Homo sapiens: one gene and its partner. The protein of the gene in region 2 purifies or fractionates together with the protein of the main gene of each other region. This does not show direct contact. Each region holds a gene or a part of one and is shown on either strand. Other genes may lie near its edges.

Evidence for each region. Proteins that work in one complex are often made in the same cells at the same time.
Region 1: the proteins of BOD1L1 (region 2) and KIFBP fractionate together in Homo sapiens (co-fractionation; one large-scale study listed by BioGRID). This does not show direct contact.

Annotation. Positions count from the first base shown.
Region 1 is NC_000010.11:68,995,303-68,998,802, forward strand, and holds part of KIFBP (KIF-binding protein), read left to right. Parts: intron 1-3,500. UniProt on the Homo sapiens protein: Activator of KIF1B plus-end-directed microtubule motor activity. Required for organization of axonal microtubules, and axonal outgrowth and maintenance during peripheral and central nervous system development.
Region 2 is NC_000004.12:13,571,049-13,576,747, forward strand, and holds part of BOD1L1 (biorientation of chromosomes in cell division protein 1-like 1), read right to left. Parts: intron 1,795-5,699; coding exon of another isoform or gene 1,654-1,794; intron 1-1,653. UniProt on the Homo sapiens protein: Component of the fork protection machinery required to protect stalled/damaged replication forks from uncontrolled DNA2-dependent resection.

The sequences.
Region 1 (3,500 bases), on a different chromosome or scaffold from region 2:
TGTAGAATTTTATATAAATGAAATCATATTGTATATACTCTTGTTTTGGTATACCTTTTTTCCACTCAACATCGTTATTTCATTCTGTATCTACTGAGCTGATCGTGTCTTTTCATTTTCAGTCTGTTAATAGGGTGGATTACATTGATTTTTGTAAATGTTAAACTAATCTTGCATTCCTGGGATAAACTCCATTTGGTCGTAGCGTATTCTTTTTATATATTGTTGAACTGAATTCACTAAATTTTTGTTTAAAATCTTTGCATCTGTGTTCATGAAGGATTTCAGTCTGTAGTTTTCTTGTTATATCTTTGTTTAATATGAGATGGGAAGTGTACTGTCCTTTTCTCTTTTCTGGAAGTGTTTGTGTAGTGTTGGTGTTAAACTTCATTACATGTTTGGCAGAATTTACCAGTAATACTTTTTTAGCTGTTTTTATTTTATATTTTACTTTTCTCCTTACCTAGTTTGATAGTGGCAAGGATATGATATGTGAAAGATGCAAGACCTTCCATTGTAGCTTTTCTACCCTTAGTAGGATTTATATTGTATTTAAAGAATAATTCACATAAAGGCTGGGCACGGTACCTCATGGCTGTAATCCCAGCACTTTGGGAGGCCAAGGCGGGTGGATCACTTGAGGTCAGGAGTTTGAGATCAGCCTGGCCAACATGATGAAACCCCATCTCTACTAAAAATACAAAAATTAGCCAGGTGTGGTGGCAGGTGCCTGTAATCCCAATTGCTCAGGAGGCTGAGGCACAAGAATCGCTAGAACCCGGGAGGCGGAGGTTGCAGTGAGCCAAGATCATGTCACAGCACTCCAGACTGGGCAACAGAGCAAGACTCTATCTCAAAAAAAAAAAATGGTAATAATAATTCAAATAAAATGTCAATAGTGATTATCTCTGTGGAGTCAAGCTTTAAAAAAAAAATCCAAAACACCAAACCTAATTTAATTTTAAAAATAAAGGTGGGCCGGGTGTGGTGGCTGACGCCTGTAATCCCAGCATTTTGGGAGGCTGAGGTGGGTGGATCACCTAAGGTCAGGAGTTCAAGACAAGCCTGGCCAACATGGCAAAACCCCGTCTCTACTAAAAATACAAAAATTAGCTGGGCGTGATGTTGGGCGCTTGCAATCCCAGCTACTCTGGAAGCTGAGGCAGGAGAATAGCTTGAACCTGGGAGGTAGAGGTTGCAGTGAGTTGAGATTGTGCCACTGCACTCCAGCCTGGGCGACAAGAGGGAAACTCTCAAAAAAATAAATAGGCTGGGCATGGTGGCTAACACCTGTAATCCCAGCACTTTGGGAGGCTGAGGTAGGTGGATTGCCTGAGGTCAGCAGTTCGAGACCAGCCTGGCCAACATGGTGAAACCCCGTCTCTATTAAAAATACAAAAATTAGCCGGGCATGGTGGCGCATGTCTGTAATCCCAGTTACCCAGGAGGCTGAGGCAGGAGAATCGCTTGAACCCAGGAGGTGGAGGTTGCAGTGAGCCAAGATCGTGCCACTGCACTCCAGCCTGGGCAACAGAGTGAGAGACTGTCTCAAAAAATAAAATAAAATAAAAAATATTTTGGCCAGGCGCAGTGGCTCATGCCTGTAATCCCAAGACTTTGGGAGGCTGAGACTTGAGTCCAGGAGTTTGAGACCAGCCTGGACAACATAGTGAGACTTTGTCTCTATTTGAAGAAAAATAAAATAAAAGTGATTTGATCATTCCACTGGAACATAGCACTTTGGTCTTCCGGCTTTACAAAATATATCCATTGTATATATATTTTTTTAAGTGACTTGATCAGTCCTCAGTATCCAGGACTATAGGTCATACTGATAATGTTTTGAGATTGGATAGTTCTCTCCTCTATGTTACTTATGAGGTCCTTTCCAGGACCTCATTAAACTACATAAGTAATAGAGGCTTGACATAATAGAGGACCTTATTAAACCTCATAAGTAATAGAGACTTGAAGGGTGATATGGTTTGGCTCTGTGTCCCCACCCAAATCTCATGTTGAATTGTGATCTTCAGTCTTGGAGGAGAAGCCTGGTGGGAGGTGACTGGATCATGGGGGTGGATTTCGTCTTGCTGTTCTCATGAGATCTGGTTGTTTGAAAGTGTATAGCACTTCCTTCTTTGCTCTCTCCCCTTCCTACTCCAGCCATGTAGAATGTTTGGGCTTCCCCTTCACCTTTTGCCGTGATTGTAAGTTTCCCGAGGCCTCCCCAGCCATACCTCCTGTACAGCCTGTGGAACTGTGACCCAATTAAACCTCTTTTCTTTATAAAGTATCTAGTCTCAGGTAGTTCTTTATAGCAATATGAGAATGAACTAATAGAAAGGGCTCTGCCTTCCTAATAACTTACTGATTGTAATTTCCTGATCTTAGACCTACAGGCCACCTTTTCCTTACTCTTTAGTTCAACTTATTTCTCCTTTGATGATAGACAGTGCTTGGGAAACTCCTTTGACCATGACACCAGTAAGCCCCACTGCAGCACACTGCAACTAACCTAGGTAGTCTAGAGACTCACCTAGTACCAGAAACTGGTTAGTCACACTCTATTTTTGGGACAGGGTTGTGTTTGGCCTGCTATATTCAGGGTAGACTGTGCCACAGAAAGCAACAATTCTTGGTATGTGACAAATCTGAAACCATGAAACCATGATTGTAAGTTTCCCGAGGCCTCCCCAGCCATACCTCCTGTACAGCCTGTGGAACTGTGAGCCAATTAAACTTCTTTTCTTTATAAAGTATCTAGTCTCAGGTAGTTCTTTATAGCAATATGAGAATGGACTAATACAAAGGGCTCTGCCTTCCTAATAACTTACTGATTGGTCATGTTACATGTTAGTCAGGCTGGTCTTGAACTCCTGACCCCGTGACCTGCCCGCTTCAGCCTCCCAAAGTGCTGGGATTACAGGCGTGAGCCATTGCACCCAGCCCAAAAGATTTTTAAAACAAAATGTGTGATATAGTAATATATATGCTTCTTTATTAACACATTATATAATGTGTCTAATATCTATGATGATTGTAAAGTAATGATGAGCATAAATGATATTTTGAGATATCTGCAAACTAGCATAATAGAAAGGTTTTTTTTTTTCATTTCTATTGTTCACAAAGTCCCAGGTCCTATAATACTGCTACAATTTATTTCCTGTGTTCATAATGAAAAGAAATGCTGTATTTTAATAGGAGATTGGTGAAAAGAAATTTGTATTTTTTTCCCTGTCCAAATTCATGGACTCTGAATTCTCTTTATGGATGCCTTGGGGATCCTTAGACTTGAGGTTAAGAATTTCTGCATTAAAAACTTCCTTCCCTAGTGGCAAAAGATGGTAGAAGGCCAGCCTCAGAAGTATCCTTGTGCCTGAAGGACTGACTATTCCAAGGGAAGTGAGGTAGACTAACCCCACTACATACATACATACATACATACATATATGTATATATATATATATTTTTTTTTTTTTTTTTTTTTTGAGACAGAG
Region 2 (5,699 bases):
GAAATTTTGTTTCAGTTACAGCAGCAGGAATGTGAGCACCAGCTGTATTGCAAAATATTCTTATAGTGGGTTGTTGCCAAAAAAGTTTGAAAGTCTTATACACATATATCTCCCCCATTAGACACGATGATTCTCTAGGGCAGCTGCTGAGATTTATTCATTTTTCTAACTCCAGTGCCTAGTGCAATGCCCAACACATGGCAAGCGGGCAGTAAATGTCCTGTCAATGAATCAAAGAGTTGGAAAACCAAAATTGCAGGAGATGGAGAAATGGGACTCTTAGTGATATGAAGACACGTCTTCCGTTTCTTGTTTGACAGCAAAAGTAAATAAACTGAGTCAAAAATTGTTGCAGATGATGTGGTTTTGACATGTGTTGACAATGACTGAAAATGTGTTTGTTGATAATCCATTTCAAACTGTTTCCATGGAAAGCCACCAGCCACTCAATGAACACCTCTTCAGTAAAGGTGCCGTGCGCAGTATTGTGCTGGGGGCCAAGTGGCAGCCAACAGAAGCTCTGAGTCAGGCTGCTTCTCCCCAGCCATGTGAGCTTCGTAGTTTATCCAGGCCCTTCTAGTCCACCCAGAATGTGGTCTGTGAGGAGGGGCATTGGTCACTGAGGAGCTTGTTGGAAATGCCAACTCTCAGGCCCCAGCCTAGACTTACAGACCCAGGATCTGCATTTTACCAACAGCCTCAAGTGATTTGACTGCATGTTCAATTTTGAGTAGTATGCATGGAAACCTTCCTGAGATTCTTTCCCTCACATATAAAATAAGAGTAACTATTACAATTCACTCACTGAGGGTTAAATGAGAGCATGTATGTGAAACTGCCTGGCACTATAGTTTGCTTTCGTTTCTAGAATGTGCGGAAAACAGCACATACATACAAGTATGCTGTGAAGATGAAAATGTGGTAAGAGGTCAAAACAGTTTTTGTGTACAGTGAAGAGTCTTTTATTTTTGAATATGATAATGTATAGAAAGTATGACAAATTCCTATCTCAAGAAAGAAACCTAGAGCTCAGAGGGGTAAATAAAAGGAATATACCAAACCAATGCTATGTGGCATCTCAAGTGCCCAGTACTGACCAGAAGTGCAGCAAGAAGAGATGAAAATGGGCTGAAGCGGGACGGAAAGGATCTGACTTACTAGGGGTGCTGGTGGTGAGGACACTCCTCACTGGCTCAAGCAAAGGCAAGAAAGGAAGGCTCAGGACCACCTCTGGGAAGCAGTAAGACCAGTAAGGCTGCAGTGAAAGGTGTAAGCTGGCAGGGGCCGTGCCTGAAAGAGGAAGCTTTATCACCTCATCACCTCTCCAATGCTCTAGCTAAAACAGAAATGATTCTGGGCTGTTAAATGCTTTACCACACTGCCTTGCCTTTGGTCTTGGTGGATGGGAGAAGGCAGATAAGGCTCACAGGTGTCAAGGACAAGCCTGTGTGGCAGTCCACTGCGGCAAGGCCAGACTGGTGAGGCCACACAGACACCTTCTGCAGCCCTTCCTGTTCTTCTTGGAAACCAATGATCCCCAAAAACAGTTATTTGGTGAGACAAAATCTTAAAGGAAATTAGGAAGAAAGCATTATTGTACCAAAAATAGTCTTAGGGGGTTAAAAATGGCTTGAAGTGTAAGCAGGGACTTACCTTCCTAATGGGGGAGAGTTACTAACTTTTTCGCTGGTAGGTAACTTCTCTTTTGCTAATTTTTGGCGATTTCTAGGAGAAACTGTGTCTGGGCTGCCAAGTTTGGATGTTGCACGTGCAGATGGCTTGCTATGTTGCTTTCTGAAACAGATTATAGAAACACTGGGCAATGGTAGCACTGAATACTCCAGTCCCTGGAACTCTGTAGGAAGTATGAGGCTCCTTGTGGGCAAGTCAGAACAATAGGAACTAAAATCAGAAAAATGGTTGGTTTTCCTGACCACTGCTGATAAGTCGATCTTAATGTCATCTACAACTACCTCTGCTTGTGTGACACTATCTTTGTTCTTACTGTGCATGATATTTTATTGTGATTTAGAAAAAAGATGTATCTGCGAAAAATAGAAAATATACTGGCCGACAAAATAAAGATTACAAAAGAGCTCATCAGGGTAGAATAAAGGGCCAAGATTAACGAAAGTACAATTCACAAGGCTAAGTGTTAAGGCCCAAGTAGTCAACTGCACAAGAATCAGATAAGGAATTCTGATTCCAGTAAAAACTCTGAAAAAGGAACTTGTTTAGCTGGTGTATTTTTCAATTTGAGGCTCAGTAATGAGGATGCACACTGAAGAACAATATCCAGAAAATAAGGTAGAACAGTCCTCTTCTGGATTCATTAGACCACACTTGGTATACAGAGTTTGCTTCTATCTATCTGTCTGTCTGTCTGTCTGTCTGTCTATCTATCTATCTATCTATCTATCTATCTTTCTTTCTTTCTTTCTTTCTTTTGAGAAAGAGCCTCTATCTATCTATCTTTCTTTCTTTCTTTCTTTTGAGAAAGAGCCTCGCTCTGTCACCCAGGCTGGAGTGCAGTGGTACAATCTCTTCTCACTGCAACCTCCACTTCCCGGGTTCAAGCAATTCTCCTGCCTCAGCTGCCCAAGTAGCTAGGATTACAGGAGTCTGCCACAATGCTCGGCTACTTTTTGTACTTTTAGTAGAGATGAGGTTTCACCATATTGGCAAGGCTGGTCTTGAACACCCGGCCTTAAGTGAGCCACCAGCCTTGGACTCCCAAAGTGCTGGGATTACAGGCGTGAGCCACTGTGCGTGGCCTCTTTTATATTTTATTAATTTAATTTAATTTTTTCTTTTAAGAGGGTCTTGCTATGTTGCTTAGGCTGGTCTCGAACTCCCAGCCTCAAGCAATCTTCCTGCCTCAGCCTCCTGAGTAGCTGGGATTACAGGCATGAGCCACTGCGCCCAGCTGCACATTTGCTTCTAAAAGAGGATAAAGGTAACTGATGAGCACAAACAGGGATGATGAAGGGGCTCAATAAGCAAGCAGAGAAGACCTGGAAGCTGCCCTCAAATATGTAAGGCAAAATTAGACAGAAGGTTCTGAAAGTCGAACTAGAATCAAGAGTAGAAGCCACAGGGAGGCCGGCTTCTACTGAACACAAGTCAGAGAATGCTAAGGAGGATGTGGCTTTCCCTGCCACTGAGGTCCATGCAAAAGCAGGAAGACCCTTTCAGAGGAGCTGCAGGTGCAGTGACTCAGGCACTGACTGGCTATTGGTACTACATGACCACTGAGAGCCCACCCAACTCAGACAATTTGTAAAATTATGAAGACACCAGAGCCCTGGGACTGATCAACCAATGCCAAGGAATCTAAACTAGAGAGAAAACAACTCATTTGTAAATCAAAAGTTTATATTATAAAGTGCATGAAGGAAGAGCTTTGATAATCCAGGTGATTACAGAACCATATAAATCAAATAAGATTTATTTTTAAAGAATTTATAAAAGGCAAATCTGAGAGCAATTTCTAGACACTCACTCGAAGATGGCTAGAAGGCCTATGGAACTTTCTCTGAGTTGAGCCCTACTTTCCACAACTGTTTTAAAGGGAAGCAGTAATTCTGGTGGGATGGATGCTATACCCAAATGCATGGGTGTTGGGCTCCAGCACCCTCACCCTCTCCTAGCAGCAGCAATTTGGATTCTGTGACTTCTTTTCTATTTATGTGAGCTGCTCCACCTAAAAAAACAAATATGAGACCACCTTATAACTTTAGCCGTGTGAGCTTCTAGAGTCCTTTGGCTCTAAAATCTGATTCTTTGAGAAATCAAACCATGGCACAAATGGCTAATACTGTGTTAAGTCTGGAGGAATTAGAAACAGATTGATTTTAAGTTTTTGTTTTTTTTTGTTTTTTTTTTTTGAGACGGGGAGTCTCACTCTGTCACCCAGGCTGGAGTGCAATGGCGTGATCTCGGCTCACTGCAACCTCCACCTCCCGAGTTCAAGCGATTCTCCTGCCTCAGCTTCCCAAGTAGCTGGGATTACTGGCACGTGCCACCACACCCAGCTAATTTTTTATATTTTTAGTAGAGATGGGGTTTCACCATATTGGCCAGGCTGGTCTCGAACTCCTGACCTCGTGATCCGCCGGCCTCAGCCTCCCAAAGTGCTGGGATTACAGGTGTGAGCCACTGTGCCCAGCCCCGATTTTAGTTCTTTATGTAAACACAAGATACTATTATATTATGCTGTTAGTGTTATTTTTGAAATAAATCTTCCTGAACTTTTTGATCAATCTTGAATAATGAAATTAAACAAGATGATACCAAGATTAATAGCTTGTAAATCACATTAATTAAAAATTAAAAAAATATATATTTTTTCAGAGACAGAGTCTCACTGTCACCCAGGCTAGAGTGCAGTGGTGCGATCACAGCTCACTGCAGCCTCAAGCTCCTGGGCTCAAGCGATCCTCCCATCTCAGCCTCCCAAGTAGCCGGGACTACAGGTGCATGCCACCATGCCCAGCTAATTTTCTAATTTTTTTGTAGAGATGGGGTCTCCCTGTGTTGCCCAGGCTGGTCTCATAAACTCCTGGGCTCAAGTGATCCTCCCATCTTGGTCTCCCAAAGTGTTGGGATTACAAGCATGAGCTACCGTGCTCAGCCTGGAAAATATTCATGTTTGGGAAAGTGATTAACGGTTAGGATGAGACAATACAGTTATGTACCATTTCTCAAATGTGCCATGGGGAAAGGAACACTGGATGATGTGAACAGGTATAATGATATAGGCCAACAACAGAAAAGTGGTATCAGCAAATAATGCTTGTTTAAACAAAGTTCAACAGGCTTCTTTCCTTTAGGAGTTTGCCAAACCCTTTTTTTTTTTTTTTTTTTTTTTTTTGAGATGGAGTCTTGCTCTAACACCAGGCTGGAGTGCAGTGGAGCCATCTCAGCTCACTGCAACCTCCGCCTCCCACGGTTAAGCAATTCCCCTGCCTCAGCCTCCCGAGTAGCTGGGATTACAGGCACTCACCACCATGCCTGGCTGATTTTTGTATTTTAGTAGAGACGGGGTTTCACCATGTTGACCAGGATGGTCTCGATCTCCGGACCTCGTGATTCGCCTGCCTTGGCCTCCCAAAGTGCTGGGATTACAGGCGTGAGTCACCGCGCCCAGCCCTGGAGTTTGCCAAACCCTTAATATTTTAATGAACATGTAACTGAGGAAGGAGAGAGAATTCAATGACATTCCCAAACTCATCTGACCGTGGTACTCTTTTTCTCAGAGGTTTCTGGCTACAATAGGGTTTGAGAGAACACATTTTGGGAAATATATGAAATTACCTCAAAAATGGTCAAATTTGGGCACTTTCCTATGATCAACCTATTGCATAGCACTGGTGAGATGCATGTGATGACGGTGCGTGGGCCTGGTTCCTCCTGCTTTCTGGGTTGAATTAAGTATGCTGAGAGCAGGGATGATGTTTTATGTATGTCCATATTCATGAATGGTGCTCAATACGACATCTGAAGGATGGCAGATGCTCAAAAAATATATTTGTAAGGAATTGAATGGGTTCCACCAAATAGGCATTTAAAACCTGGTAAAGACTTTGAGGCAATCCCCCAAAATGGTTTAGGACAGAAAATGTGTTCTCCAAGAACTATGTGCCCACTGCTAACAATAAAAATGAAAGGGAAGAACTTCCACTGCAGCATGAATGATT